2 linked regions of the Homo sapiens genome follow. The protein of the gene in region 2 interacts with the protein of the main gene of each other region in a biochemical or structural test. Each region holds a gene or a part of one and is shown on either strand. Other genes may lie near its edges.

Evidence for each region.
Region 1: of the proteins of SRPK1 (region 2) and ADPRH, one has a biochemical effect on the other in vitro, tested with the Homo sapiens proteins (one large-scale study listed by BioGRID and IntAct).

The regions. Positions count from the first base shown.
Region 1 is NC_000003.12:119,582,492-119,585,991, forward strand, and holds part of ADPRH (ADP-ribosylarginine hydrolase), read left to right. Parts: intron 1-3,500.
Region 2 is NC_000006.12:35,834,099-35,839,553, reverse strand, and holds part of SRPK1 (SRSF protein kinase 1), read left to right. Parts: intron 1-1,124; coding exon 1,125-1,217; intron 1,218-4,065; coding exon 4,066-4,250; 3' UTR 4,251-5,455. UniProt on the Homo sapiens protein: Serine/arginine-rich protein-specific kinase which specifically phosphorylates its substrates at serine residues located in regions rich in arginine/serine dipeptides, known as RS domains and is involved in the phosphorylation of SR splicing factors and the regulation of splicing.

The sequences.
Region 1 (3,500 bases), on a different chromosome or scaffold from region 2:
AAGGAGGGCAAAGAATAAAACAGCCTTGAGGAAATCATTAAGAATGTTGATGGAGATTTAAATAACAGAGACAATAGTGTTTGTAAATGTGATAAAAATAGAAATAACGGCCATGGTGGTGGCTCATACCTGTAATTCCAGCTCTTTGGGAGGCCAAGGTGAGAGAATCACTTGAACCCAGGAGTTCAAGACAAGCCTGAGCAATATACGGAGACCCTGTCTCTAGAATGGGGTAGCCAATCCCTCTTCTAGAGACAGGTACTGATCCGTGGCTTGTTAGGAACTGGAGCACACAGCAGGAAGTGAGTGATGGGCGAAGGAGCATCATCACCTGAGCTCTGCCTCCATCAGATCAGTGGCGCATTAGATTCTCATAGGAGCCTGAACCCTGTTGGGAACTGCACATGCGAGGGATCTAGATTGTGGGCTTCTTATGAGAATCTAATGTCTGATGATCTGTGGTGGAACAGTTTTGTCCCAAAACCTCCCCCAACCAACCCCGTCCATGGAAAAATTATCTTCTGTAAAACCGGTCGCTGGTGCCAAAAAGGCTGGGGACTACAACTCCAGAAAAAAATTTTTAAAACATTAGCCAGGTGTCATGGCACATACCTGTAGTCCCAGCTACTTGGGGGGCTGAGGTAGGATGATTGCTTGAGCCCGGGAGGTTGAGGCTACAGTGAGCTAGGATCGTGCCACTGCATTCCAGCCTGAGTGACAAAGCAATACCCTGACTCTAAAAAATAAAGAAATAAATAGAAAGAACCTAAATCTCTCATAATTAATTAAGCTGACACATTTGCAACCATTTAAAATTATTCAGGGTGACTCTACTCAATAACAATGTATCGTATATTTCAAAATAACCAATAGAGTAAATTTCAAATGTCTCACCACAAAAAAAAGTGAGGCAATAGATATGCTAATTAGCCTGATCATCCCACATTGTTTACATATATCAAATCATCACATTATACTAAATAAATGTATATAATTGATTTGTCAATTTAAATATTAATAAAAATTTAAAATTTGCAAATAATATTTACTAATATTGAAAAGTATTATTATACACTAATAGGTTATAAAATAGTATGTATGTTATGAACCTACTGTCCTTTAAAAAATAGATCTGTGGGGCCAAGTGCTGTGGCTTACACCTGTAATCCCAACACTGTGAAAGGCCAAGGTGAGAGGATTGCTTGAGTCCAGGAGTTTGAGACCAGCCTGGGCAACATAGCAAAAGCCTGTCTTTAAAAAAAATTTTTTTGAGTGGCCAGTTAAAAAAAAATTTTTTTTTTTTTGAGATGGAGTCTCACTCTGTTGCCCAGGCTGGAGTGCAGTGGCACGATCTCGGCTCACTGCAACCTCTGCCTCCCAGGTTCAAGCGATTCTCCTGCCCCAGCCTCCCAAGTAGCTGGGATTACAGGCACGCACCACCACGTCTGGCTAATTTTTGTATTTTTGGTAGAGATGGGGTTTCACCATGTTGGCCAGGCTGGTTTCGAACTCCTGACCTCAGTTGATCCACCTGCCTCAGCCTCCCAAAGTGCTGGGATTACAGGCATGAGCCACCATGCCTGGCCAAAAAAAAACTTTTTTTTAAAAAATAGATATGTATTTCTGTGTTGAGAAAGATCTTGAAGAACATGTACAAAGATGTTACTAATTATATTTGGGTGATGGGAGTATTTATAGTTTTTTATTTTTACTTACTTGTATTTCTAAGTTTTCTGTGATGAATAAGTAAAAAGAAAAATGTATATTTTTTATTTTTAAAGAAAAATGCGGCTAGGCATGGTGGCTCATGCCTGTAATCCAAGCACTTTGGGAGGCCAAGGCGGGCAGATCATCTGAGGTCAGGAGTTTGAGACTAGCCTGACCAACATGGTGAAATCCCATCTCTACTAAAAATTAAAAAATTAGCTGGGTGTGATGGTGCACACCTGTAATCCCAGCTACCCAGGAGGCTGAGGCACGAGAATCACTTGAACCCCAGAGGCGGAGGTTGCAGTGAGCCAAGATCGCGCCATTGGACTCCAGCCTGGGCGACAGAGTGAGACCCCATCTCAAGAAAAAAAAATGCAAAGGCTTTTGTAGAGACTTCTGGCCACAGGTTCGCTCACAAGTGGTTCTTGCCCACTTCGGCAACTTGTTAGAGCCACTTGGGCCACCAGGTGATTTTCTCTGGCCCATCTGACCTACCTCTCCTATTTGAGGCTGCTAGGGCTGCCATAACAAAATGGCATAGACTGAGTGGCTGAAACAATGGAAATTTGTCTCTCACAGCTCTGGAAACTGGAAATCCAAGTCAAGATATTGACAGGCCTGGTTTCTTCTGAGGCCTCTCTCCTTGGCTTGCAGATGGCTGCCTCCTCGCTGTGTCCTCACATGGTCTTTCCTCTGTGTGCATGTATCCCTGGTGTTTCTGTGTGTTTGCATTCCTCTTCATGTAAGGACACCAGGCAGATTAGATTAGGGCCTACCCTAAAGGCCACATTTTAGCTTAACCACCTCTTTAAAGGCCCTATCTCCAAATCGAGGTACTTAGAGCTACAGCATTTGAATTGGGGGGACTCAATTCAGCACATAACACCTCCTGATGAAAGCTTCCCATCACCATACCAAGGGGCCCTTGTCACCCCAAGGATTGGCTTTAGATGCCAATCTCTGTTCATCCTTTCTCGGCATCTGATAGCTCATCAGTTTAGCAAGTGGAAACTTTTTTTTGTCCACCTGTGCCATCCATGAACATTTTTGTGAAAACACTGACCAGTAAAGGAACAGCAGTGCCACACTCCATCGTATGTTGCTGCCATCGCTTGGTTCGCATGCGTATTCACAGGTCCCCAGTAGGACAGGTCGGGGGACAAGCCTGCTTACGTCACTGTCACGAGGGGATAGCCAAGGCCCAGAGGTTCAGTGACTCACCAAAGACACATTGTTTCCCTGAATCCACTGCTCCTCATCTGAGCCCAGGGCTTCACTGTAGAATTTTTGGCCGCTTTCTTTCTTTTTGATGTTCAGGAACTCCAATTGTGAGGTTTTTGTTTTTTGTTTTTTGGTTTTTTGTTTTGAGACGGAGTCTCGCTCTGTCACCCAGGCCAGGGTGCAGTGGTGCAATCTCGACTCACTGCAACCTCTGCCTCCCGGGTTCAAACGATTCTCCTGCCTCAGCCTTCCAAATAGCTGGGACTACAGGCATGTGTCACCACGCCCGGCTAGTTTTTTGTATTTTTAGTAGAGACGGAGTTTCACCGTGTTAGCCAGGATGGTCCCGATCTCCTGACCTCGTGATCTGCCTGCCTCCACCTCCCAAAGTGCTGGGATTACAGGCATGAGCCACTGCTCCCGGCCTAATTGTAAGGTTCTTATTGGACTCCATAAGGAATTGGGCTTTGGAGTCTGATGGATTTTACCCAGCCACTAACTAGCTGATTATGTGATTTTGAGGAAGTTTCTTAAGCTCTGAGCTTAAAAGGCTTATTTACTTAAAAAAG
Region 2 (5,455 bases):
TTGTGCTCATGGTCCATATTCATACTGTGATGTTTACAGATCATCAAGCAGCTATACTTTAAAATGTTTGTGCTAATCTTTACTTTTAAAAAGTGATTTTAGGAAGAAATTAAAAGCTTTAGACAAGACATAAGATCATTGGTTTTCATCTGAGTTTTAGCTCATATTAGCCCTGAAGTTTCAAGTTAGGCCATTCATGCTTTTTGAAGTTCTATTTTCTCATCTTTAAAATGGGGTATCAGCCAGGTGGTGGCTCAGGCCTGTAATCCCAACACTTCGGGAGGCCAAGGCAGGAGGATTGCTTGAGCCCAGGAGTTTGAGACCAGCTTGGCAGTATGCCAAGACCTCATCTCTACAAAAAATGTTTTAAGTCAGCCAGGTGTGGTGGCACATGCCTGAAATCCCAGCCACTGGGGAGGCTGAGACAGAATGATCACAAATAATAGTTCTAGAATGCCTAACACATATTTGGACAGTTTTTTATCTTACCTAAAGAACCTACCTGAACCTAGATATATAGACAAAATAGAACTAAAGATGAAGATAAGCCTCCAAAATCCAGAATGGGACTTGCCAGACACTATCGGGTGACCAACCACCTGAAATAATTCTTGGCCTTCCCAGTCAGTCTTCCTTCAGTATCCTTGGTTTTATTTGTAGTTACTTTTAAACAGCTAGTCCTTGAAAAAGCTATTCATAGAAAAACCTCTTTTACAGCTTGTCCTTGATCTGTTCTTCTTACCCTTCTATTTTAGACCACATTGTGCACATTATAGAGCTGATAGGCAGAATTCCAAGACGCTTTTCCCTCAGTGGGAAATATTCACAAGACTTCTTCAGTCACAGAGGTAGTATTGTTATGTAGGACCCAGGGATACTTCAGGAAGCAGAGCATTCACACCAAGATTGTTTTTAGTTATCACTGAATCCACAAAAATTTGACTTTGTGAATTCTCCATTAGATGGATAGAGTCTTCCTCTTCCCATTTAGGATAGAAAGTAAGCCTGATAGGCTTTACAAAGAGATGTGCATGCTGCTCCTTCTGCTGTTTTCTAGAGCTGCATTTGTTACTCTTGTTACGGATCTTTTTTTTCCCCCCTCTTGAAATGTTTGAAATATACAGATCACATTGCATTGATCATAGAACTTCTGGGGAAGGTGCCTCGCAAGCTCATTGTGGCAGGAAAATATTCCAAGGAATTTTTCACCAAAAAAGGTAAAGTAAATGTGTTCCCAGACATTAAGGAGGCAGAAGTGTTTAAAAATGAAGAGGTAAGCACATATTCCCAATGTCCTACAGAATGATGGGCCTGCCTTGAATGCTAACCTGTGACTTAGCAAAGAGATAAAAAAGAGGTAAAAAAAGTGGTCAAGAGCAGAGACTGAGCCGGGCGCGGTGGCTCATACCTGTGATCCCAGCACTTTGGGAGACCAAGGTGGGCGAATCACAATATCAGGAGTTTGAGAACAGCCTGGCCAACCCGGTGAAACCCCGTCTCTACTAAAAATACAAAAAATTAGCTGGGAAGAGTGGCGGGCGCCTGTAATCCCAGCTACTCAGGAGGCTGAGACAGGAGAATCACTTGAATCTGGGAGGCGGAGGTTGCAGTGAGCCAAGATCGCACCATTGCCCTCCAGCCTGGGCAACAAGAGTGAAACTCTGTCTCACAAAAAAAAAAAAAAAGCAGAGACTGGAGCCAGGCATGGTGGCTCACGCCTGTAATCCCAACACTTTGGGAGTCCAAGGCAGGAGGATCACTTGAGTCTAGGAGTTCAAGACCAGCCTGGGCAGCACAGGAAAACCCTGTCTCTACAAAAAAAAATTTTTAATTAACTGGGCATGGTGGTACACACCTGTGGTCGCAGCTACTCCGAAAGCTGGGGTGGGAGGATCACTTGAGCCTGGGAGGTCAAGGCTGCAGTGAGCCATGATTGCCACTGCACTCCAGCATGGGCAACAGAGCAAGATCCTGTCTCGGGGAAAAAAAAGAGCAGAGACTGGAGCCAGACTGTCAAATCCTGGCTACTCCACTAGCCATGTGACCTTTGACAGGATCTAACTGTGCCTCAGTTTGCTGATTTCTTAATGGAGATAATAATAAAGTATACTTCTTACTAACAGTTAATATGTATAGTGCCTGCATGCAGTTGGTTGATTACTTCTATAGCACTTCTGAAAAATGGGCAAATTTTTTGCTGGCGTTTGGTCTAAGAACTGCCTCTACCAAAGGGCAGGTAATTTAAGCTTCTTACATAAGGGCAGGGACTACATCTCACTCATCTTTGCATCCCAGTGACACCTAACACAGTCACTCGAAGTACATTAGTCATACAAACGAACTTCACACTTTTTAGTTTTATGTATTTGTTATTACAAAAAAAACCACAAAAACAAAACTTCCAATTTTTGACTTGATAATATATTTCTTAAGCATTGCAAAAAAAACCTGAAATGTGAAAACCTGACCTAGAAGCATCTAGGAAATGGTCTGGTTTTTCTACCCCCATTGTGCCATGGTTCCCTTTTTCCTCACAACTTCTACAGAAGTGCTGAGAAAAATGACTTTTCTCAATCCTTGGCAGGAGCCATCCTCAGAAACATTACCCTTTCTTAAACCTCTTTTTAGGTGGGAAAATTGTAAAATGTTTCATAAGAGTTCCTCCTCATGTGCAGTCAGATTAAGGCATGTGTGTTTACCAGGTAGGTAATCAAATAGGCACTCACTGCTCACAAAAGAGACTTAAAATTTTTATGTTTAAAAAAAATTATTATTATTATTATTATTATTATTATTATTGAGACAGGGTATCACTCTGTCACCCAGGCTGGAGTACAGTGGCACGATCTTGGCTCACTGCAACCTCCACCTCCCAGGTTCAAATGATCCTCCTGCCTCAACCTCCCAAGTAGCTAGGACCACAGGCATGTGCCACCATACACAGCTAATTTTTTTGTATTTTTGGTAGAGGCAGGGTTTCACTATGTTGCCCAGGCTGGTCTTGAACTCCTGAGCTCAAGTGATCCACCCGACTCAGCCTCCCAAAGTGCTGGAATTACAGGCATGAGCCACTGTGCCTGGCCAACTTAAAATTTTAAAGCAGCATTTGCCTTAGCTATTAATAATTGACTATCTTTTAAAAAGTTGTCACTTCAAAGAAGCAATTAGGTTGATACTCCAGTATAGTGTAGAGCAGCGGTCCCCAATCTTTTTGGCACCAGGGACTGGTTTTGTGGAAGACAGTTTTTCAATGGATGGGGGGGTTGGGGGGTGGTTTGGAGATAAAACTGTGTCACCTCAGATTGTCAGGCATTAGGTTCTTTTATGGAACATGCAACCTAGATCCCTACTGCAGTTCACAGTAGGATTCACGCTCCTGTGAGAATCTAATGCAGCCACTGAGCTGACAGGAGGTGGAGCTTAGGCAGTAATGCTTGCTGGCCCACCACTGACCTGCTGCTGTGCAGACCTGACAGACCGCAGACTGGTACCATAGGGGGTATTGGTATAGAGTTGGGGACCCCTGGTATAGAGTATATGAAGCTGTTGTATCTGAAAACTGTGTAGGATTTGGGGTTTTTTTTGTTGCTTTTATCCATGCTTGACATGATGTTTTAACTTTACTGCCTCACTGTAAAGCAACATTTACTAAACTATTGAGCACATACACAAAAAAAGAGTATAAGCAAATTATTCTCGGTATGTGGTACTAGAGTGTCTCTGCACACCATATAAGACCATGTTGAAGACATAGGCATTTCATGTTTATTTTAGTAGTAAATACCTACTTCTTGATTGTCACACCCAGTTTGACTGGGACCAAAAAAATCCTAGAATAGGGGAGAAAACAAATTACCTTAAATTTTTGGAGCCGTATGAAGAATAGAGGCACTTCTTTCTGAGGCATATGTCAGAAAAGAAATGCTTTGTGAATGAAGGATTAGATTCTGATTGCAAAATTTGATTCCTCATAGACTACATGGGTTAGTTTGTGGGTTTCCACAAGAGTACCTTGTCATTTGTCTGTGTTGATCAGTGGCTTTTTCTGTACTGTCTTCACTGCAGGTGACCTGAAACATATCACGAAGCTGAAACCTTGGGGCCTTTTTGAGGTTCTAGTGGAGAAGTATGAGTGGTCGCAGGAAGAGGCAGCTGGCTTCACAGATTTCTTACTGCCCATGTTGGAGCTGATCCCTGAGAAGAGAGCCACTGCCGCCGAGTGTCTCCGGCACCCTTGGCTTAACTCCTAAGCCCCTGCCCAGCACCACAGCAGAGATCACACACTGACCCTCCGCCCTTCCCCTTCAAGCATTTTCCTCTTCCCTTTTCAGGGTGAAGCTCTTCCTTCAAGAGTTTCTAGATCTTGTTTTTTTTTTAATCCAACATGTTCATTTGGGTTTGCTTACTTGACCCTGTGGAGATCCCCACAGCCATTGGGCATCCTAGGTGAATTTGGCCTTGGTTGGGCTCTGCCAAAGACTAATGGACTAAAATGTGAAACAGCCTCTTGCCCTGTACCTTTCCTTCCCATTAGGACATCCTTTAAATTATAAGCATCCTTTTTGAAAAGAGCTATGAAGGTGTATGAGCCCATCCTTTTATTCATTGACTCTAAGAGTCAAATTTTCTAGTGCATATCCTATTGCCAGCATAAGGATGAGGAGGGGGAAAGGGTCTTAATTCTATGTACAGCAGAGACATTAAACTTGCTGTGTCCGGGCTGCATCATCTTCCTGGACTGTTTCTGTTGTTCTCTGTGTTCACATTTTTTCCTGCAACTTTTAAGCTACTGTCTTTTTTAAATAGCTATATGAACACCAAATTTGGGTACCATTTTATCACTGTTCAAAGCACTGTCAAATTCCTTTCATCCTTTAATAGTTAAGATCTTTGAATCTTCAGTCTGATTTTTAATGTAAGCAAAAACAGAACCATTGAATAGTAATTTCTTGAGAACCTCAGGTGTTCTATAAACAGTCCTTTCCTGTATGTCTTCTATTACCCTAAGACCAGAGTTATTTTGGTTGGTTGTTTTGTTTTATTTTTTGTTTTTGTATCCATGGCTGGCACTTTACTCATTGCACTTGAGTTTATTGCCCCATAACTAAAGGATCAGGATGATGGTAGAACGGAGATCTGGGTTTCAGAGCTTTCCCATTTAAGAAAAATAGATCTTGAGATTCTGATTCTTTTCCAAACAGTCCCCTGCTTTCATGTACAGCTTTTTCTTTACCTTACCCAAAATTCTGGCCTTGAAGCAGTTTTCCTCTATGGCTTTGCCTTTCTGATTTTCTCAGAGGCTCGAGTCTTTAATATAACCCCAAATGAAAGAACCAAGGGGAGGGGTGGGATGGCACTTTTTTTTGTTGGTCTTGTTTTGTTTTGTTTTTTGGTTGGTTGGTTCGTTATTTTTTAAGATTAGCCATTCTCTGCTGCTATTTCCCTACATAATGTC